7 linked regions of the Homo sapiens genome follow. The protein of the gene in region 6 purifies or fractionates together with the protein of the main gene of each other region. This does not show direct contact. Each region holds a gene or a part of one and is shown on either strand. Other genes may lie near its edges.

The links.
Region 1: the proteins of MTHFD1 (region 6) and RRBP1 fractionate together in Homo sapiens (co-fractionation; one large-scale study listed by BioGRID). This does not show direct contact.
Region 2: the proteins of MTHFD1 (region 6) and PAK4 purify together in Homo sapiens (co-immunoprecipitation; one large-scale study listed by IntAct). This does not show direct contact.
Region 3: the proteins of MTHFD1 (region 6) and TNFRSF10D purify together in Homo sapiens (co-immunoprecipitation; one large-scale study listed by IntAct). This does not show direct contact.
Region 4: the proteins of MTHFD1 (region 6) and STK38 purify together in Homo sapiens (affinity purification with mass spectrometry, with the first as the bait; one large-scale study listed by BioGRID). This does not show direct contact.
Region 5: the proteins of MTHFD1 (region 6) and PPA1 fractionate together in Homo sapiens (co-fractionation; one large-scale study listed by BioGRID). This does not show direct contact.
Region 7: the proteins of MTHFD1 (region 6) and AHCY fractionate together in Homo sapiens (co-fractionation; one large-scale study listed by BioGRID). This does not show direct contact.

The regions. Positions count from the first base shown.
Region 1 is NC_000020.11:17,612,972-17,616,877, forward strand, and holds the end of RRBP1 (ribosome-binding protein 1), read right to left. Parts: intron 3,869-3,906; coding exon 3,761-3,868; intron 3,039-3,760; coding exon 2,955-3,038; intron 2,559-2,954; coding exon 2,460-2,558; intron 1,910-2,459; coding exon 1,766-1,909; intron 1,250-1,765; coding exon 1,211-1,249; 3' UTR 708-1,210; downstream 1-707. UniProt on the Homo sapiens protein: Acts as a ribosome receptor and mediates interaction between the ribosome and the endoplasmic reticulum membrane.
Region 2 is NC_000019.10:39,170,298-39,174,639, reverse strand, and holds part of PAK4 (serine/threonine-protein kinase PAK 4), read right to left. Parts: intron 1,723-4,342; coding exon 1,264-1,722; intron 1,065-1,263; coding exon 630-1,064; intron 1-629. UniProt on the Homo sapiens protein: Serine/threonine-protein kinase that plays a role in a variety of different signaling pathways including cytoskeleton regulation, cell adhesion turnover, cell migration, growth, proliferation or cell survival.
Region 3 is NC_000008.11:23,137,528-23,140,839, forward strand, and holds part of TNFRSF10D (tumor necrosis factor receptor superfamily member 10D precursor), read right to left. Parts: intron 734-3,312; coding exon 661-733; intron 477-660; coding exon 343-476; 3' UTR 1-342. UniProt on the Homo sapiens protein: Receptor for the cytotoxic ligand TRAIL. Contains a truncated death domain and hence is not capable of inducing apoptosis but protects against TRAIL-mediated apoptosis. Reports are contradictory with regards to its ability to induce the NF-kappa-B pathway.
Region 4 is NC_000006.12:36,540,516-36,544,857, forward strand, and holds part of STK38 (serine/threonine-protein kinase 38), read right to left. Parts: exon of another isoform or gene 1,254-4,342; intron 275-1,253; exon of another isoform or gene 86-274; intron 1-85. UniProt on the Homo sapiens protein: Serine/threonine-protein kinase that acts as a negative regulator of MAP3K1/2 signaling. Converts MAP3K2 from its phosphorylated form to its non-phosphorylated form and inhibits autophosphorylation of MAP3K2.
Region 5 is NC_000010.11:70,219,671-70,224,012, reverse strand, and holds part of PPA1 (inorganic pyrophosphatase), read left to right. Parts: intron 1-4,342.
Region 6 is NC_000014.9:64,390,811-64,395,152, reverse strand, and holds part of MTHFD1 (C-1-tetrahydrofolate synthase, cytoplasmic), read right to left. Parts: intron 1-4,342. UniProt on the Homo sapiens protein: Trifunctional enzyme that catalyzes the interconversion of three forms of one-carbon-substituted tetrahydrofolate: (6R)-5,10-methylene-5,6,7,8-tetrahydrofolate, 5,10-methenyltetrahydrofolate and (6S)-10-formyltetrahydrofolate.
Region 7 is NC_000020.11:34,296,577-34,300,918, forward strand, and holds part of AHCY (adenosylhomocysteinase), read right to left. Parts: intron 1-4,342. UniProt on the Homo sapiens protein: Catalyzes the hydrolysis of S-adenosyl-L-homocysteine to form adenosine and homocysteine. Binds copper ions.

The sequences.
Region 1 (3,906 bases), on a different chromosome or scaffold from region 6:
CCGAGGCTTGGCAGGGAGATTAAAGTGAACAGTCCTTGGTCAAGGCAGACCCGCCTTCCATTCCGGGCTTGGTTGGGGCCCTACTGTGACTCTGAGCCTCTGAACGTCTTTGTGGACTAAGCTCCAGGTTCCTATTGTTTACACTCAAAGGGACACACTTCTTGGGGCCAAAGACCATGCTGTCAGGGGCCGCTGAGGACACTGGGTCTGAGGGTCGTGGCAAACCTAAGCTGGTTTCTGCAGGTGAAACTCCACCTCCCGAGGGCAGGCAGTGGGCTGCTCCAGCCCTGGCCCACCCTCCTGGGGTGTGGGTGTCTAAGCCCCAGCCAGGACAGAGACCCCTTGTTCATTCCCGGACCTCCATCACGCAACAGCCCGGGCCACCAGCCGCGCTCACAAACCTCAGCCCCTCCGGGATGCGGGGCAGCAGTAAATGTATCTGGCTCTCAGGTGTCGCAGGCCCTGCTCCCTTATCCTGCCCGGAGGGCACTGAGGTCTGGGAGGTGACAAGGAAAACTGCTGGGGGCCCCGGAAGCAGCGAGTCTCAGCCCCACCCCACGCTACGCGGAGCTGCAGAGCCTCTGCCTTCAAAGCAGCTGAGGCCCACGCTTACTCTCTTCCCGAGTGCGCCCCCACCCCTTGGTTCTTCATCTTGGGCCCAACAGCGGGTGGGGGAGCCCCAGCAGAAGACCAGACGAGACCGCAGCACCGGGCACCAACGTTGGTTTTAATGGCATCAACACCCAGGAGGTCACACGTCAGTTCTGGTTGGCAACGTCTAGGGGTGAGGGGCTGTGGCCTCCAGTCGGCCCCACAGCCTTTGAGAACTGGCTGCCCGGTCCCACCCGCTTCCCGCCCCGCCCCACTGAAAAAACACTAAACGATTGCACTGACAGACAGACCCCAGAGCGCCCGGCCTCCCACACACCCACGGGGCTGTCAGAGTCAACCAGGGCTTTGGCGTCACTCGGCGGTGGCCCGGGGCTGCGCCCAGGATAGTGTTTATCAAATGTGACACAGGTTCATTTACAAACTGGGGCTCTGGAAGGTCTACTTCTGTGGCTCTAAGAGACTTGTCTCTCATGGCTTCTCTCGGAGCTACCGGAAGTTGGGCCTGGATAACGCTGTGTAGGTTGGTTGGTTTATTTGTAAGGAATGTGTAAGGCATTTTGGTAAGTTGAACAGTAACTTCTTTTTCCAAAGAGGAAACTCAGACAGAGGTGCCCTCCTTTGAGCTGCTGCCGTCCTCCTGTGAACGAAGGCAGGTGGCGTGAGGGGGGCTGGGCCACGAGCCATGGCAGAACCACCTGCCCTCTACCCTGGGCCTTTAGTCCCTCCCTGGATTGACCCCCTCAAGCCACTCCAGTCCCTCAGAGAACAGGAGCCACAGACCCCTGGGGCTGGGGGACAGGGAGGACTTGGTGGGAGCTGAGGGGAAACCATCATCCTGCAGGGCAGGGGCTGGAGCACTGGCTAAGGGGCCCACACAGGTGCAAAGTGAGGACCTGGGCCAGCAGGGGGATCAGACACTCGCTTCCCAGCAAGGGAACCCCAGAAGGGTGGGTGGTGGGCCGGGTGGGCTGAAGCCCTCGTTAGGAAGTCTCTGTCCCCACTACCTCCGCCCAGCTCTGCCTCCCCTGGGGCTCCCAGCCCAGCGCTCCCAGCAGCTTGACGACTCCGCCCAGCTCTGCCTCTCCCGGTCCTGCCTCCCCGGGGCTCCCGGCAGCTCGACTCCTCCCGCCCTGCTTTGGCGCCAGGCACGCACTGCCTTTTCCAGCTGTTCCTGCAGCTTCTTCACCGTGTCCTTCTCCCTTGCCAGCTGCTCCTGGGTCGTCTTCAGAAGCTCCTGCAGTCTCGTGGCGGCGCGCCCCAGGTCACTTGTTAACTTCTTCTCTTTTTCTAGTCTCTCCTGATGGTCAGAAGGTTGACGGGCATCAGCCCTTGCACCGGCAGGAGGGCCACCCCAGCTATGCCCACAGGACCCTGACGCCAGGGGCTGGAGCCCTCTGGGGACACAAGGAAGGCAACTCCTGGTCACCCGGAGATAGGTGGTGACGACAGGGAGGAAACCGCCCATGCTGACCGTGAGGGCTGGGTCCTGTGCTCTCAGCACCACCAGAACTTCCTGGGGCAGGAGCAGTTTACTCCGCACTGTCCAAGGCAGCACAGGAGACACACCTGACTACTGAGCGCTGGACGTGTGGCTGAGGAACGCACTTCACGTTCTACATGCTTCACATTTCGACAGCCACCAGGACTAATGGCTGCCATGTGACCATGTGACACTGCAGGGCTAGGAGTCCCCACCCCAGCCCCGGGTAGTGACAAGGGGAACCAGTGCCAAGGGCAGGTCCCGGTGGGGTCGGCTCTCCCCTTCCTGGCCCCTTTCCGAGGCCAAGAGTGGCGCCAGCCCCAGAGCAGACCCTCCAGGTGTGACCCCCGCCCCAGCCCCTGCCTGCCTTCAGCTGTGAGGCCTCCTCTGTTTCTGAAGACTCTAGGGGGCCGGCTGTGCGGAGCTTCTCCAATTCTTCTTGTAACCGACATGCCGAGGTCTGAGCCTTGCCGGAGAGGGAAGTGAGGTCTGGGTGAGACGTCTTATAAACGGCTGTGCTGTCAAGACCCTACCGAGCACGCCTGGGGACCAGGGGGCCCCCCCAGCCTGATGGAGCAACAGCTCCATCCTGTAGCTGGAATGAGTGGGCCAGACCCACAAGTTCTGACCCAGCCCCAGGCCCTCAAGGCTCCTCAGGGATGCAGACCACCCACAGGGCTCCCAAGGTGCCTCCAGCCTGTGCTCCACCTGCCCGGGCCCCACCCACTGCTGCCCAGAAGGCCCAGGCCCAGCCCAGGTGCTGCTGGGCACAGCCGAGCGGGGCAGGGCTGACCCACTCATTCCCTGGAGACTCAGGGCCCAGGGGCTGATGGGGGCTGAGAGCCACCAGGCAGGGCCTGACCTCCTCAAACTCGGCCGTGAGCTTCTGCCGCTGTGTCTGCTCATCCTCCAGGATGGCTTCTGTCCACTCCAGCTGCGTCTTCAGCTGTGCAAACACCGCAAACATAACCCGGCAGCCCGGTGAGGAACCCTCCAGGGGCCCAGGGATCCAGCACAGGCACCGCTCTCTAGCTGCTTCTAGCTTCCCCTTTCCCTGCCCCAACGCTCCCCTCGTTGGGGAGAGGGCACCTCAGCCCCTGGTACAGACTTCGGTGTGGCTCAGGAGCAGCTGATGGGGCCTCTGCAACCTCAGGGGCCTTTAACGAGACTCACAGGACAAGAACGATGCCTCCGAGCCCTGGCCCCATGACAACCCCCTTAACAGCCACACCATGGCCACCCCAGGGACAGGCCCTGCCTCTTGGTGAGGACTCTTGGTGGCTATTGCCGGGCTCAAAACTCTGGAGAGCGAATATCCTGCTAGCGATGTCCCAGCCGGGGTTGCAGTGGGAGACAGTCCCCTTCGATGGCTGCAGACCCTGCCCAGAGCTGCTCCTGAGCCCTGTAGGTGCAGACCCCAAATCACGGACTCCCTCTTCGAGTCCCACCTCCCCCCAACTCCTCCAGCCTCTCCACCTGGCCACCTTTCTGTTCCATGCTCTGTGGCTTTCTCCGAACCTGGATGATCCAAATGGGGCAAAGCAGGGTGGGGTGGGGAAGCAGCGGAGGCTGGAGCAGCCAGTGCGGGGTTTAGTCCGAACGGAGGCAGCAGGGCCTGCACTCTTCTGGGATTAGTGATGTGTCTGGGGACCAGCTCACCGCCCTAACCTGAACGGGGTCCTGCTCGGCTGGGGGCGCCTCTGGGGAGGAAGCTGGGGCCCCAGCTATGTCACCATCCTCTACGTGGCTCTTCATTTCACTCAACTGCTGCCTGACCTGGAACAGGAAGGGGTGTGTTTGCAAATGCACAGCCA
Region 2 (4,342 bases), on a different chromosome or scaffold from region 6:
CCGGACAAGGGCAAGGATGAGAGAAGAGGCGTGTGTCGGCGGGAGGATGAGGAACCCAGGCGAGGAGCTCCATGGTGCAGCCCGGCACTGTGATGGGCAACGGGGTCGAGAGGGGCCTCACACACCCGGCAAAGGGACCTGGGCTTCCTATCGTCAGGGTGCTACGGGGCACTGCCAGGGTCTCTAAGGAGGGACGGGGAGGGGGTGGGCCTGAACGTCAGAAACATACTCTTGGTGGTTGTGTGGGCTGTGCCGAGGGACACCCAGGAGTGGAGGCCAGGGCGGGGCACAGGGAACCCAGGAGGGGCAGGTCTGGAGGACACTGTACCCTGGAGCCCAGGCGGGCCTCAGTGGGTGCGAGGGGCCTGGAAGACACTGGGTCGGGGGTCAGTGGCCCGAGGAACCCTGGGTCTGGGGCTCAGGGACAGAGATGTGGGTGAGGGTGCTGTGAGGACAGAGGCAGGGACCCAGCTGGGGCGGACGAGACGGCCTGGGGAGGGAGAAGAGTGAGGGGAGGAGGGGAGCCTGGCCCAGCACGGAGGAGTGCAGGGAGAGGAGGGAGGAGGGGAGGGAGGGTGGGAGGGAGGGGTGGGAGGACCAGCAGGGCGGCAGGGCAGCAGCGCCCGCACCTCGTTGAAGAGCAGCTCGCGCCTCTGCTGCTTGCGCAGGTCCATCTTCTTGACGGCCACCAGCTTGCCCGAGCTGCGCACGGTGGCGATGCACACGATGCCCGTGGAGCCCTCGCCAATCTTGATGAAGTTGTCCAGGTAGGAGCGGGGGTCGCCTGGGTCCACCACCAGCTGCAGGGCAGCCCGGAACTGCTCATGGGATACTCGCTGTGGCTCCCGCTGTGGTGAGCGGGGGCCAGGGGGCCCAGGAACAGCAGGGGCGGCGGGGGTGCAGGCTGGAGGGGCCAGCTGGGGCTCTGAGGCGTGGGGTCCCAGCACTCCAGGGCTGGGGGCACCTCGGGCTCGGGTGGGAGGCCGGGAGGAGGAGGAGGAGGACTGGGGGATGGCCAGGCCCCCCGCTGATGGCCCGTTAGGGGCCACGTCATGAGGCTCCCCCTGAAACAGAAGAGAGGTAGCTGTCAGTGATGGGTGCCAGGGAGCAGCTCTGCTCCCTAAGCAGGAGAGAGACCCAGCGATGGGACAGACACATGGGTGGTCAGGATGAGATGCACGGTGGTGGGGCGGGGCTGGAAGGTGGGGACAGAGGAGCAACGGGCAGGGGACAGTGGGGGCCCTGGGGCGGGGGATGGGTTACCTGGGCACCCCGGGATGGGTGGTCCGTGTCAGCCCTCGGGTAGGTGTTAAAGGGCCGGCCAGCTGCCAGTTTCGCCCCACTGGCCAGACCAGCAGGCTGGGGGGTGCCGACATCAGGCCCGGAGAGGGGGCGTTTGTCCCGGGAGGACTCCTGGGGACCCCCTGAGCCCTCCCTGGAAGACTTGGGCCTCTTCTCTGGCCCCGCCCGTCGCCTGTCACCACTGCCGCCACCCGCCTCGCTGTGACCGGCGAACCGGCCTCGGCTGCCTGCCTTCCCTGGGCCCCCTCTGGCCGTGGTGGCCGGCTCCTCTGGCATCCCATTTTCCTGGCGGGCACGGGCGGGCGGCGGCGGGCTGTCTCTCCGCAGGGAGTTGGAGCGTGTCACCGACATGTTCTCAAACTCGTCCAGCAGCAGCGTGAGGGCCCCATCTTTGGCACCTTTGCTGCCCCGCACGATGGTCTGGGGTCCCAGGCAATGGTGGGTGGGGGCCCAGCAAGGAGTGGGGCACACAGGACGTGCATCCGACACGCAGGGACAGGACAGCACGACACACACAGAGACAAGACAGAGACGCAATGAAGAGATGCCATGGAGTGACAATGGCATGGGCAGTGCAGCCCCTCCCCTCCCTGGGGACACAGCTGCAGGGGCCAGAGGAGTGATCGCCATGGCCAGGCTGCTGCCCCCTGGGCTCGGTGGGACCCTGGAGAGGCCCCCCTTGTTTTTCTCCTGTTCCTCACACTGGTGGAATAGTCCTGCCCTGAGGGGTTTGGGGGAGGAAGGGCAGAAATTGACCCACCCCATAATCAGCCCCGAGGGCTGCAAATGACAGGGCGCTGGGGCCAGGGCCTGGCCTGGCACTTCCTCCCATGTGGGCGCCAGTGTTCCTTAGCCCCAAAACCACACTCTCTGCTCCCATGAACAACAAGGAGTGGGGGACAGGGAGAGTCAGAAAGGCCTGGTCCCAAAGTAGAGGGCAAGGGGGTCCCAGGAGCCGGGTGGCAAATGCAAATGCAGATGGGGACCAGGCAGAGCATCCAGTGCATCCCGAGTCACCCGGTCCCCACCCTCTGTGGTCTGAGTCGTGTCCTGCAGGCCCCCTCTGCCCCCGTTCCATTTCCAGACACACGGGTGTCTCCCCCACCCCCGCCCCCCTGCGCCCAGGGCCTCTCCGCTGGCGGCTCCCTCTGCCTGGAACATCAGCTCTCAGGGTCCCTGTGGCTCCCTCCCTCCACTCCTTCAGGTCTTTGCTCAAAACTCAGCTTCTCAGTGAGGCTTCTGCTGGCCTCCCATCATCTAAAATGCCAGCCCCTGCCCTCCCCGGCCCCTGCCCTGCCTGCATTCTACCTAGAGCACCTAACAGCAGCTGATACAGAGCACACAGGCATCTGTCTGCTCCCGGCTCTGCCTAGTGCATGCTCTGGGCAGGGATTGTTTTTTCCTGTCTGCTTCGGGTCCTGCTCCATCTCAGCACCTAGACCAGCATCTGGCGCACAGCAGGGGCTCAGTGAACTTTTGCTAAACCACGTAGTGAGTGAGGTGTCTGTGCAAAGGCCACAGTGAGCTGAGAACGTGGGCCCTGCTGACAAGGACCCTGCCCGGGGCTGCCAGATGTCCTCCAGCCGGAGGCCTGCCTCTAATGTGTGGAAAACACTGATCCCACGAAACCCGGACCCTGCCTGGGGCTGCCAGGCATCCTCCAGCCAGAGGCCTGCCTGTAACGTGTAGAAAACACTGATCCCACAAAATCCGTGGTCTGCCGCTGCCCTGTCTCTCCTGGCCGTGGCTGTCTGCCTGAAGCCGGGCCTTGCCCAGGGGCCCCAGGAAGTCAAGGTGGACACAAGGCCAGACTTTGCTGTTAGAACAGGGCGTTGAGGCAAGAAGCAGTGGCTCACGCCTATAATCCCAGCACCTCGGGAGGCTGAGGATCACCTGAGGTCAGGAGTTTGAGACCAGCCTGGCCAAAATGGCGAAAACCCGTCTCTACTAAAAATACAAAAATTAGATGGGCATAGTGGTGGGCGCCTGTAATCCCAGCTACGCGGGAGGCTGAGGCAGGAAAATCGCTTGAACCCAGGAGGCGAAGGTTGCATGAGCCGAGGTGGCGCCACTGCACTCCAGCCAGGGAGACAGAGCAGGAATGTCTCTCAAAAAAAAAAAAAAAAAAACCAACAGGGAGTCGAGAAGGTCCTGGGAGGCCTGAGGCCCGGTCAAGGGCAGCAAACACAAGTGCCTATGGGGCCCCAGGACAGTGCTGGCCACAAGGCCCCATGTGTGAATTCAAGTGCCCTGCCTCCTGCTGGGACAGTCACAGGCAGGCCTCACATCTGGCAAGCCAGGCAGGGGCTGGGTTTTTGGAGACACCTTGGTGGGGGCAAAGCCTACATGCAAGTGGCCACAGAGCCAGGCAGGGCGTGGAGCTGAGGTGGGTCGGGTGCGGCCTGTGGCCCAGAAGAGCCAGTGCCCTGCCCGTGGAGGCAGCTGCCACTCGCCTCCAGCTGGTCTGTCACCAGATGCCAGAAACGGCTTTGGAAGTGAAGTCTGTCACTTTCTCAGTGGAGGCAAAGAAGTCAAAGCATTCAAAAGCACCCTGCAAGGACCACACGGACCCCTCAGTGGGCTACCACATTGAGGCTGCACTTGTGTCTATGGCCAACTTGTGGGCCTTGGGGCTTCTCCCCGCCAGGCTGGGCTGGGCACCGGGAGGGTGAGTCCCCAGGCACACCCATCTCCACCCGCTGGATGCAAACCTGGCCGAGTTCCCCTTGGCCTGCGGCCCCTCCTGGTCCCCACTGACCATGGGAGAGAGTCCAGGCTCCAAGGCTGGCTTCAGAGGCCCAGCACGGGCTCAGGCCAGGCCAGCCTCATGCCAGGCCACACCCAGACACCGGCTCCACAACTCTTATGATTTCACATGGAGGCAGCAGAGGGGTTAAGAGCACGGGCCTTGGAAACAGACATTGGTTCAAATCCCAACCTTGCCATTTTGCTCTAGATGGCAGGAAGAAAAAAAAAAACCCAAAACCAAAAAGCCCCCAGCGTTTCACAGGAGTGATTTTCTCCACTAAAGCCCGGCTTC
Region 3 (3,312 bases), on a different chromosome or scaffold from region 6:
CTCCCGAGCTCAAGCAATCCACCTGCCTCAGCCTATCAAAGTGCTGGGATTACAGGCATGAGCCACCGCATGTGGCCTAAAACGACCCTTAATACACAATCGTATAACTATGCAGCCAAGAATCTGATATAAATTTCTCCCGTTTGCTTATCACACGCAGTATTTCATAAAAATTACTCCAAGTGCGTTAACAAAGTTCTAGGACCATTGGTAAGCTGCCCCATATTGGATAGTAGAGTTTGTTGGGGCATGGGTCAAGTACTGGACTGTTTCTTCCAGGCTGCTTCCCTTTGTAGGAGAAAAGGTAAATGAGGGAAGCTCTGGTTTCCTGAAGAGATTCTTTCACAGGCAGGACGTAGCAGAGCCTGCCTCATCTTCTTCATAAAAGAGCTTTTCGGAGCCCACCAGTTGGTCCTGAATTGTTTCCTTTGCATGTCCTTCTTCCAGTGTTGCCGAGGCATCCAGCAAGGTGCTGACTGAGAAGAGAGAAGAGATTTAGGGTCTCAATGCTCCAAGGACGATCAGCACAGGATCGACATGGGGCCCCCTGCTTCCAGCAGTGAAACCTCCAGAAGAGCCCTCTCAGCTATAGGGACAGCAGTTAGGACACCGTCCCTATTCCCTGTCCTCCTGCTGCGTCTCAAGGCACAAAACACTTACTGTCAGCGGAGTCAGCGTCATTCACTGGAACCAGCAGCCTCCTCCTCTGACACCCTTCAGCTTCTGCCTGTTCCTGTAACACACAGTGGGGAATGCTCTGGTCAGAGTCAGGAGTCCTGCAGTCTAGTACTGACCCTGACCACTAGCCAGCAAGAGACCTGCAGCGCTTTCCCTCTTGGGTCTCCATGGAGATGGAGACAAACCTCTGGTCCTCCATAGCTCTTGGGCTCTGTGTGCTGGTGGCTCATTGAGACATAAGTGACATGCAGTAAATGCTCACTTTGTAAGTGTTCTGACCAACTTTGACTATAGGCCTGTGTAATTATCCCCTGATCAAGACATAGAAACTGCCACACCCCAGAAAGTCCCCTTCTGCCCCATCTAATCAACTCCCACCCACCCTCACAAGAAATGATCACTTCCTTCCAGAATTCTTACCAGCAGAGTCTCGGCAGACTATATATGAGAGCACCCAGGAAAACCTAACAAAATGATTTATCCCAAGACTGTAAATGATCTTTGATCATCAGTACTCTACCATATCAATAGCGTAATTAAATAAAATGGCAGTCTCTATGGAGGCTGGAAAGACATTTGGTAAAATTAAACAGCAATTCTGATTTTTTTCAAACCCTTTTAGAATAGTAAGCTGTGTTCTTGATGATGAGAATTTCTATATGAAACCAAAAGTGAATGCCATTGCTAAGAGTGACACTTTGGAGGCCTTCCCCAGAAATCAAATCAGGACCCAAACACCTGCCTTCCCTAAGCACAGCTGAATATTGTTCTGAAAGGTCTGGCCTAGGCAACAAGATGGAAAATTAAAATGAGGCAAGACTTTTGGAAGAGGGCAGACACAATAATCATTATTTTCAACGTCATTTAAAACCCCTAAGATGAAACTACAATATTGAAATAGAAATGTATGTCTGGAGGAATGTTAAAAACATAGCAAATGCAATAAATTAGCAAACAGAATTACAAGGTTATCCAACTCATAATGGATACAAAATACTAAACAGCCATAAGAAACAGGAATAATTTATTTGAAGAGGAACACAAATCACAACTCAGTTACAATAAAATACTTGACACCAAATGTTATCTCCTTTGATAAGGAAATACTGAATATTAATAAAATATTCAGTGTTTCTAGATTAATTTTTAATTTTAAAGCGAATTGATAAAACGGCAACTGAGGTTTTTCGGGAGGGAAGGATGGAGGAAATCTTTTAATTCTAAATTTTATCTGGGTAAAATAATACATTTTGAAAAAGTATGGAAGAGGTGTTTGCTCTTTTGGATGTTAAAAAACATTAGAAAGTTCCCATTGGAACATGCCTCAAAATGGTAAGAGCCATCTATGACAAACCCACAGCCAACATCATACTGAATGGGCCAAAGCTGGAAGCATTCCCCTTGAGAACTGGAACAAGGCAAGGATGCTCACGCTCACCACTCCCATTCAACATAGTACTGGAAGTCCTAGTCAGAGCACTCAGGCAAGAGAAAGAAAGAAAAGGCATCCAGATATGAAATGAAGAAGTGAAAACTCTTCATGGACGATATGATTCTATACCTTGGAAACCCTAAATACTCCACCAAAAGGCCCCTGGAACTAATAAACGACTTCAGCAAAATTTCAGGATACAAAATCAATGTATAAAAATCAGTAGCACCGGGCACCGTGGCTCACACCTGTAATCCCAGCACTTTGGGAGGCCGAGGCAGGCGGATCACGATGTCAAGAGTTCAAGACCAGCACGACCAACATGGTGAAACCCCGTCTCTACTAAAGAATACAAAAATTAACGGGGCGTAGCTGGGTACGGTGGCTCACGCCTGTAATCTCAGCACTTTGGGAGGCCAAGGAGGGCGGATCACAAGGTCAGGAGATCGAGACCATCCTGGCTAACACGGTGAAACCCCACCTCTACTAAAAATACAAAAAACTAACCAGGCGTGGCAGTGTGCGCCTGTAATCCCAGCTGCTGGGGAGGCTGAGGCAGGAGAATGGCGTGAACCTGGGAGGTGGAGCTTGCAGTGAGCTGAGATCGCGCCACTGCACTCCAGCCTGGGTGACAGAGCAAGACTCTGTCTCAAAAAGAAAAAAAATCAGTAGCATATCTATATACCAATAATGTTCAGGCTGAGGACCAAATCAATAACACAATCCCATTTACAACAGACACACACACACACACACACACACACACACACACACACACACAATACCTAGAAATACCTCTACCCAAGGATGTGAAAGATCTCTAAGAGAATTACAAAACACTGCTAAAAGAAATCATAGATAACATGAACAAATGGAAAAACATTCCATGCTCATGGATTGGAAGAATTAATATGGCTAAAATGGGCATACTGCTGAAATCAATCTACAGATTTAATACTACTCCTATCAAATTACCAATGTCATTTTCCACAGAATTGGAAAAAATTATTGGAAGTAACTGAATCACGTGGACTGGTTTTTCCAGTTCTGTTCTTGTGATAGTGAATAAGACTCACAAGAGCTGATGGTTTTATAAAGAGCAGTCCCCTGCACACGCTCTCTTGCCTGTCGCCATGTAAGATGTGCCTTTGCTCATCTTTCACCTCAGGCCATGATTGTGAGGCCTCCCCAGCCATGTGGAA
Region 4 (4,342 bases), on a different chromosome or scaffold from region 6:
TTGGAGGCACTTAAGTAAGAAAATAAAGAGCTGTGGCTGCATAGGAAATACCATGCAACAACCAGAAAACCAGAAGCAACTTTACCTGTACCTGTAAGTCACACAAATATATCTTTTTTTTTCTTTTTGAGATGGAGTTTCGCTCTTGTTGCCCAGGCTGGAGTGCGACAGGATGATCTTGGCTCACCGCAACCTCCACCTTCCAGGTTCAATCGATTCTCCCACCTCAGTTTCCCGAGTAGCTGGGATTACAGGCATGCGCCACCACACCTGGCTAATTTTGTATTTTTAGTAGAGACGGGGCCACCTCGGCCTCCCAAAGTGCTGGGATTACAACTGTGAGCCACCGCGCCTGGCCCACACAAATATATCTTTATTTATTTATTTATTTGTTTGTTTTTGAGAAGGAGTCTCGCTCTGTCGCCCAGGCTGGAGTGCAGTGGCGCGATCTCCGCTCATTGCAACCTACACCTCCCAGGTTCACGCCATTCTCCTGCCTCAGCCTCCCAAGCAGCTGGGACTACAGGCGCCCACCAATACACCGGGCTAATTTTTTGTATTTTTAGTAGAGACGGGATTTCACCATGTTAACCAGGATGGTCTCAAAACTCCTGACCTCATGATCCGCCCATCTCAGCCTCCCAAAGTGCTGAGGATAACAGGCGTGAGCCACCGTGCCCAGCCCACAAATATATCTTTAAAACATATTAGTGCAAGTGCATATTGCATTTTTAAAAAGAGAACAAGATCACAATACCATATAGATAAATTAAGAATATATAGTAAACCACACGCCTGTAATCCTGGCTTCCTGGGAGGCCAAGACAGAGGTCTGCTTGAGTCCCCAAGTTTAAGACTAGCCTGGACAACATAGTGAGACCTAAAAAAAAATATACAGTATGCATACAGTACAATTCTTTGCCATCTAAAAATCTACCTTGAAGAAATCAAAGACCCATAAAAATTCATCACAAGGAGGTGCAATGCAGCATTGTAATCACAAAGGGAAATTAGGGATAACTTGAATATACACAATAGAATTAATTCAGTATGAAAAAGCCCTTCAATAAAATAATGTGCAGACAATTAAAATATGTCCAAATAGTTAATGTCAGAGGAAATGTTTCCACTCTAAGTCAACAGAACACATTACAAAGCAGAATGTATATCACGATCTCAATTTTCTTTATGTGTTTACTGTATATGCACATAATTATTAGAAACATATCATCAAAATGTTATTAGTGGCTTACCTGTAGGTAGTGGGAATAGAAAATGTTATTCTTGCTTGTGCTTTTTCCATGTTTTTCTTTTTCTTTTTTTTTTTTTTTGAGATGGAGTCTCACTCTGTCGCCCATGCTGGAGTACAATGATTCAATCTCAGCTCACTGGAACCTCTGCCTCCCAGGTTCAAGCGATTCTCGTGTCTCAGCCTCCCAAGTAGTTAAGATGACAGGCACCAGCCACTGTGCCCAGCTAATTTTTTTTTTTGTATTTTCAGTAGAGACGGGGTTTCACCACACTGGTCAGGCTGGTCTCAAACTCTTGACCTCAAGTGATCCACCCAACTTGGCCTCCCAAAGTGCTGGGATTGCAGGCATGAGCCACTGCACCCAGCCCATGTTTTTCTATATTTTCTTCCATAAGCATATACTGTTACCAATAACTTTTTAAGTTTATCCACAGTTAAAAGAAAAATCTATGATTAAAAATGGTAATCTGATACATATATGCTCTGACACAGCCTTAAGGTATTTGATAAATGTTTGCCGTTTATTTGAATTTACAAGTTAAAATAAAGTTTTAAGTCTTAAAATAAAGGGAACAATATGACAAAAAACCTGAATCACGATTCTAGTGGTAGAAGCAGCAATACCTTAAAAACAAGAGATCTTAATTTCCTCATTTTACACAAGAAAAAAACACCACCAATGTGTTTAGATAAGTTATAGAATATTTTTTTCCTAAATTTAAAATATTGTTTTCAACCAGGAGTGTGGCACACACCAGTAGTCCTAGCTACTCCAAAGGCTGAGGCAGAATTGCTTGAATTGGGAAGCAGAGGTTGCAGTGAGCCGAGATAGCGCCACTGCACTCCAGACTGGGCTACACAGCGAGACTCAGTCTCAAAAATAAATAATAAAATCGGCTGAGCGCGGTGGCTCACGCCTGTAATCCCAGCACTTTGGGAGGCCAAGGCAGGCGAATCATCTGAGGTCAGGAGTTGGGAGACTAGCCTGACCAACAGAGTGAAACCCCGTCTCTACTAAAAACACAAAAATTAGCTGTGCGTGGTGGCAGGCGCCTATAATCCCAGCTACTCGGGAGGCTGAGACAGGAGAATCGCTTGAACCCGGGAGGCAGAGGTTGCAGTGAGCCGAGATCATGCCACTGCACTCCACCTGGGTGACAGAGCAAGATTCCGTCTCAAAAAAAATAAATAAATAAAATAAAATCTTGTTTTCCTCCAGATATTTCAGCTAACCTGTATTATCACACTTGGCCAAATTGTTCACTAACATTGACTTGCTCCAGCATTGGCAATAGCGCTCAATTTTTTTTTTTTTGAGACGAAGTCTCGCTCTGTCGCCCAGGCTGGAGTGCAGTGGCGCGATCTCGGCTCACTCCAAGCTCCGCCTCCCAGGTTCGTGCCATTCTCCTGCCTCAGCCTCCCGAGTAGCTGGGACTACAGGCACCCGCCACCACGCCCGGCTAATTTTTTCTATTTTTTAGTAGAGACAGGGTTTCACCGTGTTAGCCAGGATGGTCTCGATCTCCTGACCTCATGATCTGCCCATCTCAGCCTCCCAAAGTGCTGGGATTACAGGCGTGAGCCACCATGCCCGGCCAATAGTGCTCAATATTTTATTCTTACCATTCCTACCTCTCATATGATCTACTTCTCTGTCTCTTCATCCCAATATAAAGCTGAGTAAAAATTAGGAGAGGCTGAACACTGTGGTTCATGCCTGTAATCCCATCACTTTGGGAGGGTGAGGTAGAGAGATCATTTGAGCCCAGGAGTTCATGAGTCCAGGAATTCAAGACCAGCCTGGGTAACATAGCAAGACCCTGTCTCTACTACCCCCCACAGCTGCAGCAAAAAAGAATCATGAGAGTCAAAGGGCCATTTTTCTTTTTTTGGAAATGGAGTCTCACTCTGTCGCCCAGGCTGGAGTGCAATGGCACAATCTCGGTGCACTGCAACCTCCGCCTCCTGGGTTCAAGCGATTCTCCTGCCTCAGCCTCCCAAGTAGTTGGGACTACAGGGACATGCCATCACCCCCAGCTAGTTTTTAGTAGAGACGGGGTTTCACTATGTTGGCCAGGCTAGTCTTGAACTCCTGACCTCAGATGATCTGACTGCCTGGGCCTCCCAAAGTGCTGGGATTAGAGGCATAAGCCACCGCACCCAGCCAAGGACCATTTTCAAAGATAGTGCATTTTAAGAAAAGTTTTCAGGTTTTCCCCCTTAATATTTAGTAGCTTTTTAAATTGTTTTGTGGATTAAACTAAGGCTTATAAAACACTTGTTCAAAAAAGCCTTAAAATTATTTAAAAAGCAATTATTTAAAAAGATACGCAGACAAAAATCACATAAATAATTCCTTCAGAGCAGAGATTCAAAACTAAGACTCTACTTGAGAGTCAAACATTTTGATTCATCATGTGCCAAAAAGATCAGTAAAAACAAATTTAAGACACTGCATTAAGAGCTACCTTACTATAAAATATCACATTATTTTTTATGGGGAAGTTTCGACTAATACCAAAGCAAACTCAAATGTTTTAGAGTATCACTAAAGGAATTAAAAAAAACAAAAACAACAAAAAAAAAACCTCTGTTTGGTTTGTGAAGCTTGGGTGTGGTTCCTTATTTGTCAGCCTGTACCCCCCCCTCCACCCACAATGAAAACCACATGCACTCTAAGTGTGTTTGGTGAAGAAATTTAAAAACCAGATGTAAAAACATGTCAAAAGCAAGTGAGAGTTTTGTACTTCCTTGTCTGAAAATTCCTGAAGAAATTGCATATATGTAGTTACATTTTAACAACTGAAATTACTTCAACATAAAAATGTAACAATTTGCCAGGGCACTGGTGCACCCCTGTAATCTCAGCACTTTGGGAGGGAGAGGTAGGAGATTGCTTGAAACCAGCCTGTGCAACATGGCAAAACCCCCGTTGCTACAAAAAAATACAAAAAATTGGCCAGGTGTGGTAGCACACACCTGTAGTCCCAGCTACTCAGGAGGCTGAGGTGGGAGGATTGCTTGAGCTGGAGAGGCAGAGGTTTCAGTGAGTTTGGCTTGTGCCACTGCACGCCAGCCTGGGACAGAGCA
Region 5 (4,342 bases), on a different chromosome or scaffold from region 6:
CCCTCTAGGGAGACTTAACTTCCTTCTTTTCTGAAACTGTTAACAGAGAGCTGAGAGCTCTGATGCCAGAGCAATGACTGAGACTCCAAAGCATGGTAGGATTGGAGGATGGAGTTCTGGGAAGTCCTAACAGTGGGAGTAACAAGATAGTAAATCCAAGATCCAGCTAAGTAAAAGCTGAAACCAGTTGGGATTAAAGAAGAAGGAATGAATTTGTAACTGGGTAGTACGAAATTTCTTAAAATCAGTATTTTTTAAGTGCGTGAATATTGGAATCATTAGAATGCATAAAAACAGTAATAGTTTTTATAGCAACTCTGTTGCTATAAAATTCATTGAATTTCTCATATCAGTTGCCCTGAAAAATCCTAAATATCACTGTTGTTCACCTAGTAGCAACTCTTTGAATTGTAGCCAGATGTCTAGAAGAAGGTTGTTCTTTAGTAGTAATTCCTGCTAAAGTATGTGGAACACCCCCTCCTTACAAGTACAGAGCTGGGCAGGATGGCTTGCACCTGTAGTCCCAGCTACTAGGGATGCATAGGCAGGAGGATCACTTGAGGCTAGGAATTAGAGACCAGCCTGCTCAACATAGTGTGACTTCATCTCCAAAAACATAATTAAAAAACAATTAGCCAGGTGTGGTGGTGCACACCTGTAGGCCCAGCTACTTAGGAGGCTGAGGCAGGAGGATTGCTTGAGACCAGGAGTTGGAGGCTGCAGTGAGCTATGATTGCGTCACTGTACTCCAGTCTGGATGACAGAGTGAGACCCCGTCTCTCTCTCTCTCTCTCTTTAAAAAAATGTTTTTTAAGAGACAGGGTCTTGCTATGTTGGTCAGGTTGGTCTTGAACTCTTGGCCTCAAGCGGTCCTCCTGCCTCTGCCTCCCAAAGTGCTAGGATTATAGACGTTAGTCGCCACGCCTGGCTGAGACAAGTATTACTACAGCATCTACATGCATTTGAAAGTGTGCTAGTATTCCATGCATAAAAAATGATGAGTTCATGTCCTTTGTAGGGACATGGATGAAGCTGGAAACCATCATTCTCAGCAAACTGTTGCAAGGACAAAAAACCAAACACCGCATTTCTCACTCATAGGTGGGAATTGAACAATGAGAACACGTGGACACAGGAAGGGGAACATCACACACCGGGGCCTGTTGTGGGGTGGGGGGAGGGGGAAAGGATAGTATTAGGAGATATACCTAATGCTAAATGATGAGTTAATGGGTGCAGCACACCAACATGCAACATGGCACATGTATACATATGTAACAAACCTGCACTTTGTGCACATATACCCTAAAACTTAAAGTATAATAATAAAAAAAAAGTGTGCTAAACATTGATTTTACAGATGAGTCACTCACCCCAAGCTGTAGCCTGAGGCCTACAAACTGGAAGTACCTGATTTAGCAGGCGAGAATTCTACCCCTGAACCACCAATGCTACCAGCAGGAAGTACCTGATTTGGAAATCCAACTCTTTGGGAGTTAAAAGAACTTTTATTTTGTTCATTGCTAGTCTTCGGAGCCTAGAAAAGTGCCTGGCACATCCTGGTGGTTCACAACAAATATTTGTTGAAAAAAATCAATGAATTGACTCTGGCTTTTGCAGGTACTCCTTGTTGTTTTTCGCCCAGCTAATTTCTTTTTTTTTTTTTTTTTTTTTTTTGAGACGGAGTCTTGCTCTGTGGCCCAGGCTGGAGTGCAGTGGTGTGATCTCAGTTCACTGCAACCTCCGCCTCCCAGGTTCACGCCATTCTCCTGCCTCAGCCTCCCGAGTAGCTGGGACTACAGGCACCTGCCACCACGCCCAGCTAATTTTTTTGTATTTTTAGTAGACACGGTTTTTCACTGTGTTAGCCAGGATGGTCTCGATCTCCTGACCTCATAATCCGCCCACCTCGGCCTCCCAAAGTGCTATGATTACAGGTGTGAGCCACCACCCCCCGGCCTCACCCAGCTAATTTCTAAAAAGCACCAGACCTTCAAGCTTTTGTTCGCAGCAGAATTCTCTTACCATTTTCTGAAGGATGTTTTCTTCCTTGTTATTTTTTTCCTTCCCATTAATTATGTAGATTTATGTTATTAGGTAATACTGTTTTGAGGATCTATACATATTTGTCATTTACTGCTATTAAAGTGTTCAATATAGTTTCTAAACTTTGAATTAGTTATTTTAGCTCTATCTGCTATATCTTTCTTGAAGCAATGTATTCATTTGGTGGTGTTTTAACGAAATTAACAGCTAATCTTGGCGAGCTCTTCAGTTGATCTTTCATGTCGTAACAGCTCCATCTTGTGAATCTTTAGGGTACTGCTGCTGGAAACCGAAAGCCCTGACTTGTTCTTTTCACAGACCTACAGATCTCTCGTTTTTACACCTGAGAAGTGGACAAAATACTTGAAAACCTAGTGGACAAGGTGAAATTTAGTCAAAGATTGGTTCTGAGGTTTTCTACCCAGGATTAATAATTAGTGTTACATTTTCTAAACCATCTGGTTATTTTAGAGGGAAACAGGGATAGAGCAGTTTCTTCAGTCCTAGATTTAAGTAATATCTCCATTCTTTTGGTTTTTATGTTGTATTGGGTAAGTGAGGTATCAGGAGGCTTGGAGCAGAAACCTATGGATGCTTTAGTCTCCCATGGTTTCAGCAGGAACTTAAAATGACAGAAGTTCTACACTTTTGAATCAAAATCAGTGTAGTTTTTCTGCTTGGTAGCAGCAGGTAATTATTGACTTGAAACCTTTGACTTATTCCCTTGTGGCTTATCAGTTCCCGTTTTTTGATGGAAAGTAGCAAAGAAGTAATTCTAAAGAGTGGTGTAACCAAGTGATTTTCATTTTAAGTTAAGTTCTTAAAATGTACTTTACCAGTCTGGGGTAACATGGCAAAGCTCCATCTCTACAAAAAAAAAAAAAAAAAAATATATATATATATATATAAATTATATATATATATAATTTATATATATATTATATATATAAATTATATATATGTTATATATATAAATTATATATATAGTATATATATAAAAATTATATATATTATATATAAATTATATATATAGTATATATAAAAATTATATATATTATATATAAATTATATATATAGTATATATAAAGTATATATTATATATATAAGAATTATATATATAATATATATAAAAATTATATATATAATATATATAAAAATTATATATATTATATATATATAAATTATATATATTATATATATATAAATTATATATATTATATATATATAAATTATATATATTATATATATAAATTATATATATTATATATATATAAATTATATATATTATATATATATAAATTATATATAATATATATATAAATTATATATATTATATATATATAAATTATATATAATATATATATAAATTATATATAATATATAATTATATATATTATATATATAATTATATATATATTATACATAAAAATTATATATAATACATATATAATTTATATATATAAAATTATATAATATATATAAAAATTATATATATATGCACATACACGCACACACACACACATATATACATATACACACACACACAATTAGCTGGATGTGGTGGCATGCATCTGTAGCTCCAGCTACTCAGGAGGCTGAGATGGGAAGATTGCTTGAGCCAGGGTGGTTGAGGCTTCAGTGAGTCAAGCTCATACCACTGCACTCCAGCCTAGGTGGCAGAGTGAGACCTTGTCTCAAAAAAAAAAAAAAAAAGTACTTTTTATAAGCATAATTGCAGGCCAGGTGCGGTGGCTTACACCTGTAATCCCAGCACTTTGGGAGGCTGAGGCGGGTGGATCACCTGAGGTCAGGAGTTTGAGACCAGCCTGGCCAACATGGCGAAACTCCATCTCTACTAAAAATACAAAAATTAGCCAGGTGTAGTGGCACGCCCCTGTGTTATCCCAGCTACTCAGGAGGCTGAGACAGTAGAATCACTTGAACTCAGGAGGCAGAGGTTGCAGTGAGCCAAGATTGTGCCACTGCACTCCAGCCTGGGTGACAGAAAACAGTAATTGCAGATTTAGCTTCATCTGTGCCCTTTGTAGAGGCTAAAAACTGAAAAACTGCAGTTAAAGTTCTATTCCGTGAAAAAAAATAGTATTCTGAATAATTAAAGCTCAAGTTTAATTAAATAACCTATGGCATATTTAACTCCAGTGTGCAAAATGGGTTGGCAAAGTATGGTTTGTTTTTTCATTGTGTTTTTAAACTGCACATCTGGGAATTTACTCCCTGAATATATCATCTATTTTATAGTAGTCAGTTTAAGGCTATAAGCCAATTACAGTAGAAC
Region 6 (4,342 bases):
ACAAGACAAGGTTGGCTCTGAGTATGAGGATCTGTAAGAAGCGGTGCTTAACTATATGTCAACAAAGGAGAGTTGATGCCAGTGGGTCTGCTGGTGAGAACAGGCAGACCCCTAATTCTAACACTGAGAATTAGTCTCACTATTGGAGGATTACCTAACCATAGATCTGGCCGCTAGAGCTGACTAGGGCTCCAATGAACAGCTCTAGGTCCCTTGCAGCCCTCTGGATCATCAGAGGGGAAGGTAGAAAGAATGGGGAAGGTAAGGGTTCTCCACTTGGAGGGAAGAACCTGCCAAGAGCTTGTAATGAGAAAAGCCTCACAAGGACCTGGCCTTCCTGCTTTTCAAAAAGACTGAACAAAACCTTAGGTAGAAAAGGTTAGGTCTAAAAGGCTGCTTACTAAGGAGGGACTGGTATTTGGGCACCTAAACCCAAAGATCACTTATAATGTTAAGTCATTCATTGCAGTCAAGATTAAGTTCCTGACAGGCTCTGGCAAAACCTTTCACAGAAATGCTCCCTTATCTCCTGGGACCTCTCAAGCACCAGATACCAAGCAGTACGTCTCCCGTCCAGGCTTGTGGTGAGGGGCAAAGAAAAAAAAAAAGCTTAGCCAGCAAAGTAAGTAGGTCTGACCTGTCTCTAACCAGTCAAAATTGGACTATAACTTCAAAAATGACTTTTTGAAGAGAATCTGTTTGGGTGCTTCCCAACCAGACTGATGGGTGGAATGATTTCCTCACAATGGAAAGGCCTCAGGGAGAACCAAACCCAGGGTGTCTCCTGCTGGAGGGTAGAAGTTTGCAATTCCTTCTAGCAAGCCAATGACAAGCCCATGGTAGGGAAAGAAATGCACCATCGAGCCTCTGCCACCTACCTTGGAACACCTGGGCAAGTCACTTAGCTTCTGGCTAAAGTGTCATAAACTGCAAAATTGAGGGTAAGGGTAGTAGCCGAGTGGCTGAGGAATCTTGACTGTGGCACCTTTAGCCACCCACTTCTTCAAGGTCAAGGATTTACAGGGTGACAGAAGCTGCTTTTTGGTCAATTAAGGGGTGCAAAGGAGAGCCAACCGCACAGTGCAGGGGTAATGGGGGCCTTCTGCACTGTGGATGGGACGTCAAAGAAGCTTGTTTTGAGAGTCTTACATTCTTTTAATCCTTGGGGCAACGTCAGGAAGTAGACAGTTCTCATCATCCCTACTGCACAGAAAGGAAAGTGAAGCTAACTTTTCCAAGGCCACACAAGCATCCCTGCCCCTTAACCTCTATTCTACCAACCTCTACTGAGTCAATTAGAGGAGAAGGGAGCCATTTGCTTCCACTCCAAGGACCCTCCTCTGTACTAGGCCAGCTTTCCTTCTAGAAGATTCTTCATGCAAATAGGGGATGTAACAGGGAACCACAGACCTCTGCTCAAAACCCCACTACCCAAATCCCAAACTGCCTGATCCCAACTCCCCTGATGGACAAGGACAGACACTTATTTGCAAACCACATCCCCAATCAGGTGCCATGACCATAGTAGTTGGCTGCCAGCTCTGGGCTCTGCTGCACTATCGCTGCAACCTGCCCAACAGCCTGGCTGGGGTCCTAGCTGAAGGTCCCAGCCTCTCTGGAACTCCGACCTCTCCTGCACAGGCTTCCAGAATCAATCCAGCTATGACAGTCAAGTTTCCATGTAACTTTTGAGCAACCTGCACTTTGGAGTTCATTACAGGCAAATTTTTTTTTTTTTTCTTTCTGAGATGAAGTTTTGCTCTTGTTGCCCAGGCTGGAGTGCAATGGCGCCATCTTGGCTCACTGGCTCACTGCAACCTCCTCCTCCCAGGTTCAAGCCATTCTCCTGTCTCAGCCTCTGGAGTAGCTGGGATTACAGGCATGGGCCACCATGCCCAGCTAATTTTGTATTTTTAGTAGAGATGGGGTTTCACCATGTTAGTCAGGCTGGTCTCCAACTCCTGATCTCAGGTGATCCTCCTGCCTGGGCCTCCCAAAGTCCTAGGATTACAGGCATGAGCCACCACGCCCTGCCCAGACAAATCTTTTTAAGCACAAAAGGGCCTACATGTATTTAATCTACAGGACAAAGTAAAAGTCTTATCCATGTTAACTTAGTAACCAAGAAGACCTGCCCTTCACTATGGTAAGCAAATTATTTTCACAAAAACAGTTCTTCTAGCCCTGTAGCTAAATGTACAGCCAAGGTTCCAAACTTTTATCTTTGATCACTAGGATAAATTCTAATTTTAAGTCTCAAGATTATAAGCCAGCTCCCAAAGGTACAGCCTGGATAAACACAAACATCACTTTTTTATTCAATGAGTACTTTCTAAGTACCTATTTATTAAAACTTACCATGTACCAACAACTTCTCTAAATGCTTTATAGGTATTAAACTCATTTAATTCTAACAACCTTATGAGTTAGGTGACATTACTACCCCAATATACAGAAGCTAAGGCACAGAGGTAAATTGCATGACCCAGTGATGCACAGAGGAGGCAGCACCGTGCTTAGGCTCTGGAGCTACCATCCACAGCGAGCTTACAAATATACCCAACTTGCCCTGCACTTGGCCAGCAAACACTCGCAGCACCTACTCAAACCATCTGCCTCTTCACAACCAGTCTCTTTAGAAAGGAGACTTAATCAAGAAAAATGCCACCAATGGAGAGAGCAGGCTTAATTATAGCAAACTAAGGGAAGGAAAAACCAAACAAATCATATAAATGTAGTAAGCCCCCCTTTGAAAGGCCCACTTATAGAACAACTATGCTTTCTTGCCTACAAAGCAAGGTGGGTCTTCCAACACTAATGCACATCCTTCTCCCACTTTGCATAATCTTTTAAAAGACACCACCCTTCTGCCCAGGGCAGGGTCAGGTTCCTCTACTCAGGAGCCTCCACTCGGTCAGCTTCTCACAGGGCCATTGCCATTGACCCCCCAAAGCAGTAAGTTAGTAACTGGTGAGGACAAAGGTCTATGGCACAGGCTGTGTTTTTGGTCAGGAGCTATTTCCCTCACAACATTGGCAGGCTTAAGGCTCCACCTCCTTCAAGTCTTTGCCCGTAAGTCACTTTTACAAAGACTATGACTCCCATATTTAAAATTGCAGCCACCATACCACAGAAACTCCTGTCCCTCTTTTCTGCTCTGGTGTTCTCTTTGTGCTTCCCACCAGCTCACAATGTGTTTCACCTATTTAAATGTCTGTCTCTACCCATCAGTATGCAAGTTTCATGAGGGTAGGGATTTGGGCTGTTTTGTTCACTATTAGACTCTCAGAGCTTTGAAGATTGCCTGGCTTAGGGGACACATACAGCTACTTGTTGAGTAAGTGAATAAATACCCACAAAGAACAGATACTTGTCTCTAACTCTCAGACCTTCCCCCGGTTGTCAAATTCAGGCTGCAAACTTAGAATTCCCCGTGAGGGAGAAAAGGGGCTGTTACTTCCAAAGAAAGATAATTTGGCAACTAAATCCATCATGTAAGTACCCAGTTTCCCACAGAGTAGAGCAGGTAGAGAAGGAATCTGGAATGCTGAACTTTGTTGATGTCCGAGCTCCCAGGAAGGCATAAAAGGAGAATAATAATAGAAGAGGACGAGTCAGGGATAGCATTCTCAGCAGGGTGGGAAACATGCTAATGAGAGGAAGACTGTAAAGAAAAAGCAAAGCGCCAGCGGGGGCGCAGTGGCTCACACCTGTAATCCTAGCACTTTAGGAGGTGGAGGTGGACAGATCACTTGAGGTCAGGAGTTCAAGACCAGCTTGACCAACATGGCGAAACCCCATCTCTACTAAAAATTCAAAAATTAGCCGGGCATAGTAGTGCATGCCCGTAGTCCCAGCTACCTGGGAGGCTGAGGCAGGAGAATCGTTTGAACCCAGGAAGTGGAGGTTACAGTGAGACAACATCGTGCCATTGCACTCCAGCCTGAGCAACAGAGCAAGACCTTGTCTGAAAAATAAAAAGAAAGAAAGAAAGAAAAGAAAAAGAAAAGCTTACGAAATTCCTTTTAGCAAGTAGTAAGTGCTGGTTAGAATGAAAAACATCATATACTGGGTGAAGACCTTAGTTTTAGTTGAGCCATTGCCATTCACCCTTGGACAAATCACATCACTTTTCTGGCCTCAAATGATTTCCTAATCCGCAGGATGGAATGTGGGAAGTGGGCTGGATTTTTAAGAAATTCTAGGACCGGTGCAGTGGCTCATGCCTGTAATCCCAGCACTTTGGGAGGCCGAGGTGGGTGGATCACATGGGGTCAGGAGTTACAGACCAGCCTGACCAACATGGTGAAAGCCCGTCTCTACTAAAAATACAAAAATTAGC
Region 7 (4,342 bases), on a different chromosome or scaffold from region 6:
TAACTCACTATCTCAATACTCTCCCCTACCACACTGGTCCACTTCCAAGGTCATACCCTAGGTCAGTCCCTAGGTCAAAGTTTGCAGACTTCCCCGGTAAGGGATGTTCCTCTGGCATGCTTGTAAATCTCCCCTGGAAAATATGATTCAGCAGGTCTAAGACTCCTGGTGATTTTTATCTTTAGGGAAGCTGAGATCCTGCCAAACACCCAAAGAGGTAGGCGGTGGGAGGCAAAGGACTCTGTAGAGAATTTAATAATCTAAGAATTTAATAATCAATAAAATTGTCTGTCAGTCAGCTTCCTACAGTGCATTTTAACAATTTCAGAGATGAAACACGCCTCCCGCATGAGAGACCACTCCGGCTGTGCCTCAACTCAAGCCACCCACCCCAGCCCTCCTACCCTAGTAGGCCATCACCAGTGATAGCTCTCCTTGGAAATCTGGACTTCAAGCACCCAACTCTAGCCACGCCTCATCTTTCTGGTTTTCTCCTTCCAGAGGCCAAGCTCCAACAAGGCTGTGGCCTGTCAGGTGAGAACCTCTATTCAATTCATCCTACCAATTTCTAGTGTCCCTTCTACCCCCTTTCCCTTTGAGAACTCACTTGGCAAAACTCTCAGCCCAATTAAACCCGACCCTCCACTGCACCGGACCCACTGAACCCAGCAGGAGGACAATCACAACCCCACCAAGACATCATATTTAATTAATTAATTAATTAATTATTTTAGAGACATAGTCTGGCTCTGTAGACCAGGCTGGGGTGCAGTGGCGCGATCTCGGCCCACTGCAACCTCCACCTCTCAGGTCCCGGTTCAAGCAATTCTCCTGCCTCAGCCTCCCCAATAGCTGGGATTACAGGAACTCGCCACCATGCCCAGCTAATTTTTGTATTTTTAGAGGAGACGGGGTTTCACCATGTTGGCCAGGCTGATCTTGAACTCCTGGCCTCGTGATCCACCTGCTTCAGCCTCCCAAAGTGCTGGGATTACAGGTGTGAGCCACCACACCTGGCCAAGATATCATATTTATTAAGACCATAAAAGACACATAGCACATTGCAGCAATCCTATGACATTTTCCTAGTAAATTTACTCCCATTTTCTACTCTCCTCAACCCTCCAACACCTTTCCCCATTGAATGACAATCTCACTTCCCAATTCACTGAGATGAATTCAGAACCAGGCCACTTTTCCCCTATGGAATCCACTAGTCACCTATAGCAGTCATCTACAGCTTCAGACCAGGCACTCTTTCCTGTTACCACAGATGAGTTGAATGGGCGCGGTGGCTCACACCTGTAATCCCAACACTTTGGGAGGCCAAGGTGGGCAGATCACTTGAGGTCAGGAGTTCAAGACCAGCCTGACCAACATGGTGAAACCCCGTCTCTACTAAAAATACAAAAATTAGCCGGGTGTGGTGGTGGGTGCCTGTAATCCCAGCTACTCAGGAGGCTGAGGCAGGAGAATCACTTGAACCTGGGAGGCAGAGGCTGCAATGAGCTGAGATCATGCCACTGCACTCCAGCCTGGGTGACAGAGTGAGACTCGGTCTCAAAAAAATAAAATAAAATAGATGAGCTGTCCTGTGGGCGGCAAGCCACCCAGGCACCGAGGCAAGAGACAGAGGACACGAGCTGTTCCAGTATAATAAAATATAAAACAAGAATAGTTATACTAGATATAGATCTTATATATGATTATATATGAATATCATTAATCATTAGTTTGTAGCAATTACTTTTTATTCCAATATTATGATAATCCTTGCTCTATAATCATAGCCTAGGAAAAACCAGGCCATACAGAGATAGGAGCTGAGGGGACATAGTGAGGTGTGACCAGAAGACAAGAGTGCGAGCCTTCTGTTATGCCCGGACAGGGCCACCAGAGGGCTCCTTGGTCTAGCGGTGACGCCAGCGTCTGGGAAGACGCCCGTTACCAGGCGGATCGTGGTCCAGCGGTAGCAAAAGGTGTCAAGGAACAACACCCGCTACTTAGCAGACTGGGAAGTGGCGGCGGCGGGAGGGGGGGGGGTGTCTCCCTTTCCCCAGGGGAGTTTAGAAAAGACTCTGCTCCTCCACCTCTTGTAGAGGGCCTGACATCAGCCAGGCTCGCCCACAGTTATCCAGAGGCCTAACCATCTCCCTGTGATGCTGTGCTTCAGTGGTCACACTCCTAGTCTGCCTTCATGTTCCATCCTGTACACCTGGCTATGCCTTCTAGATAGCAGTAGTAAATTAGTAAAAATACTAATAGTCCCTGATATGCAGAAATAATTGCGTAAGCTGTCTTTCTCTCTGTCTCCTCTCCCTCCCTGCCTCGGCTGCCAGGCAGGGAAGGGCCCCCTGTCCAGTGGACACGTGACCCACATGACCTTACCTATCCTTGGAGGTGACTCACATTCTTTACCCTGCCCCTTCTGCCTTATATGCAATAAATAACAGCGCAGCCCAACATTCGGGGCCACTACCGGTCTCCGCGCATTGATGGTAGTGGTCCCCCGGGCCCAGCTGCCTTTTCTCTTGTCTCTTTGTCTTGTATCTTTATTTCTACACTCTCTCGTCGCCGCACACAGGGAGAGACCCACCGACCCTATGGGGCTGGTCACTACACTATCCCTGCTCCATGGGGCCTGATTCCATATCCCCTCTCCTCCTTAAGGACTTCCATACTCCACTAAAACTGCTCTTCCGTCCAAAGACCAGCCTGATCTCCATACCTGATGCAAAATTACCTAAGACCATGTTTCTACCAGCAGCACAGATTGCATGAATGACTTGCCCTCCTTCCTGAAACCCTTTCTTTACTTGGCTTCTGTGACTGTCCTGTGCTTTTCCACCTACCTTCCTGGTTCCTCTTTAGCTAACAGACTTTAGGGTTTGGGGGCCCTCAGGGCTCCATCATCTCCCAGTTCTCTTATGTTTACCAATTAAGCTCATCCAGTCTTATGGCTTTACATACCTTCTCTACGGGGATGACTCCCACGTATTTATATCCAGCCCAAACTACTCCCCTGAACTTGAGACTCGATGTGATCCAACTGCCTCCACAGCACCTCCACTTGGATGTCCAGTTGGATCTATTATGTGTCATGTTGGAGTCCTCATGGCTCCTTTGCCCCCACTACCGGTTACTCTCCCAATCTTCCCATTTTAGGAAATGAAACCACCATTCAACCAGCTACTCTGCCCAAAAACTTAAGATTTGATTCCTCTTTTCCTCTTTCACCTCAATCAGCACGTTTTTGGCTCAACAAGTGAAATATATAAGCAATCCAACTGCATCTCACCACCTTCATCTAAACTGTCACTTCTCAGGCTGGGCGCGGTGGCTCACAGCCTGTAATCCCAGCACTTTGGGAGGCCAAGGTGGGCGGATCACCCGAGGTCAGAAGTTCGAGAGCAGCCTGGCCAACATGGTGAAATCCCATCTCTACTAAAAATACAAAAATTAGTTGGGCGTGGTGGTGGGCACTTATAATCCCACCTACTCAGGAGGCTGAGGCAGGAGAATTGCTTGAACCTGGGAGGCGGAGGTGGCAGTGAGCTAAAATAGCACCACTGCACTCCAACCTGGGTGAGAGGGAGACTCTGTCTCCAAAAAAAACAATAAAGAAATAAATACACTGCCACTTCTCAGTTGGACACTGCCACACTCTCTTCACTGGTCCCATGCTCTAACATGCCATTCTCCCCACAGCAGCCAGAAGAGGGAGGCTCTTAAAAATTTAAGTTACATCACCTCCATCATTCTACTAAAGTAAACAAAACTAAACAAGCAAACCCTCCAATGGCTTCCCTCAATCTTCGGGCCCTATCTGCATGACTGCCTGCCCCTCCTCCATCTCTCCACTTTCCCCACTCACTAGCTGTTCAACACACAGGCTTCCTGACTGACTTCAGGCAAGCTCCACTCATTTCCACCTCAGGGCTTTAACCCAAGCAGTTCTCGGCCTGGAAGGCTCCTCTCAAGCACCTAATACAGTACCTGGCACACAGTAGGTGCTGAAAAAAACCTGGAAACAGGAAAGAACCTAGTATATCCCTGCTAGAGGAACCAAGAGTGCACCAGGGTGACTCAAATAGAGGCATAAGATGAGTTGGGACTTCAGTCCCAGTGAAGTGGGGAACCTACAGTTTTCAGGGGCCAGCATTCAGAGACCAGATTTGTCTTTTGAAAAGACCCCATTGGCTGCTGTGTGGATCTGCGGAGCAAGAGATCCAGGGAGACCTGCAAGGAGAGAGACCAGACTGGGGTGGTGACCGTGGAGACAGACAAGTGGCAGATCTGCTCACATAAAATGGAGACAATACTACTTTATCTGTATGCATGT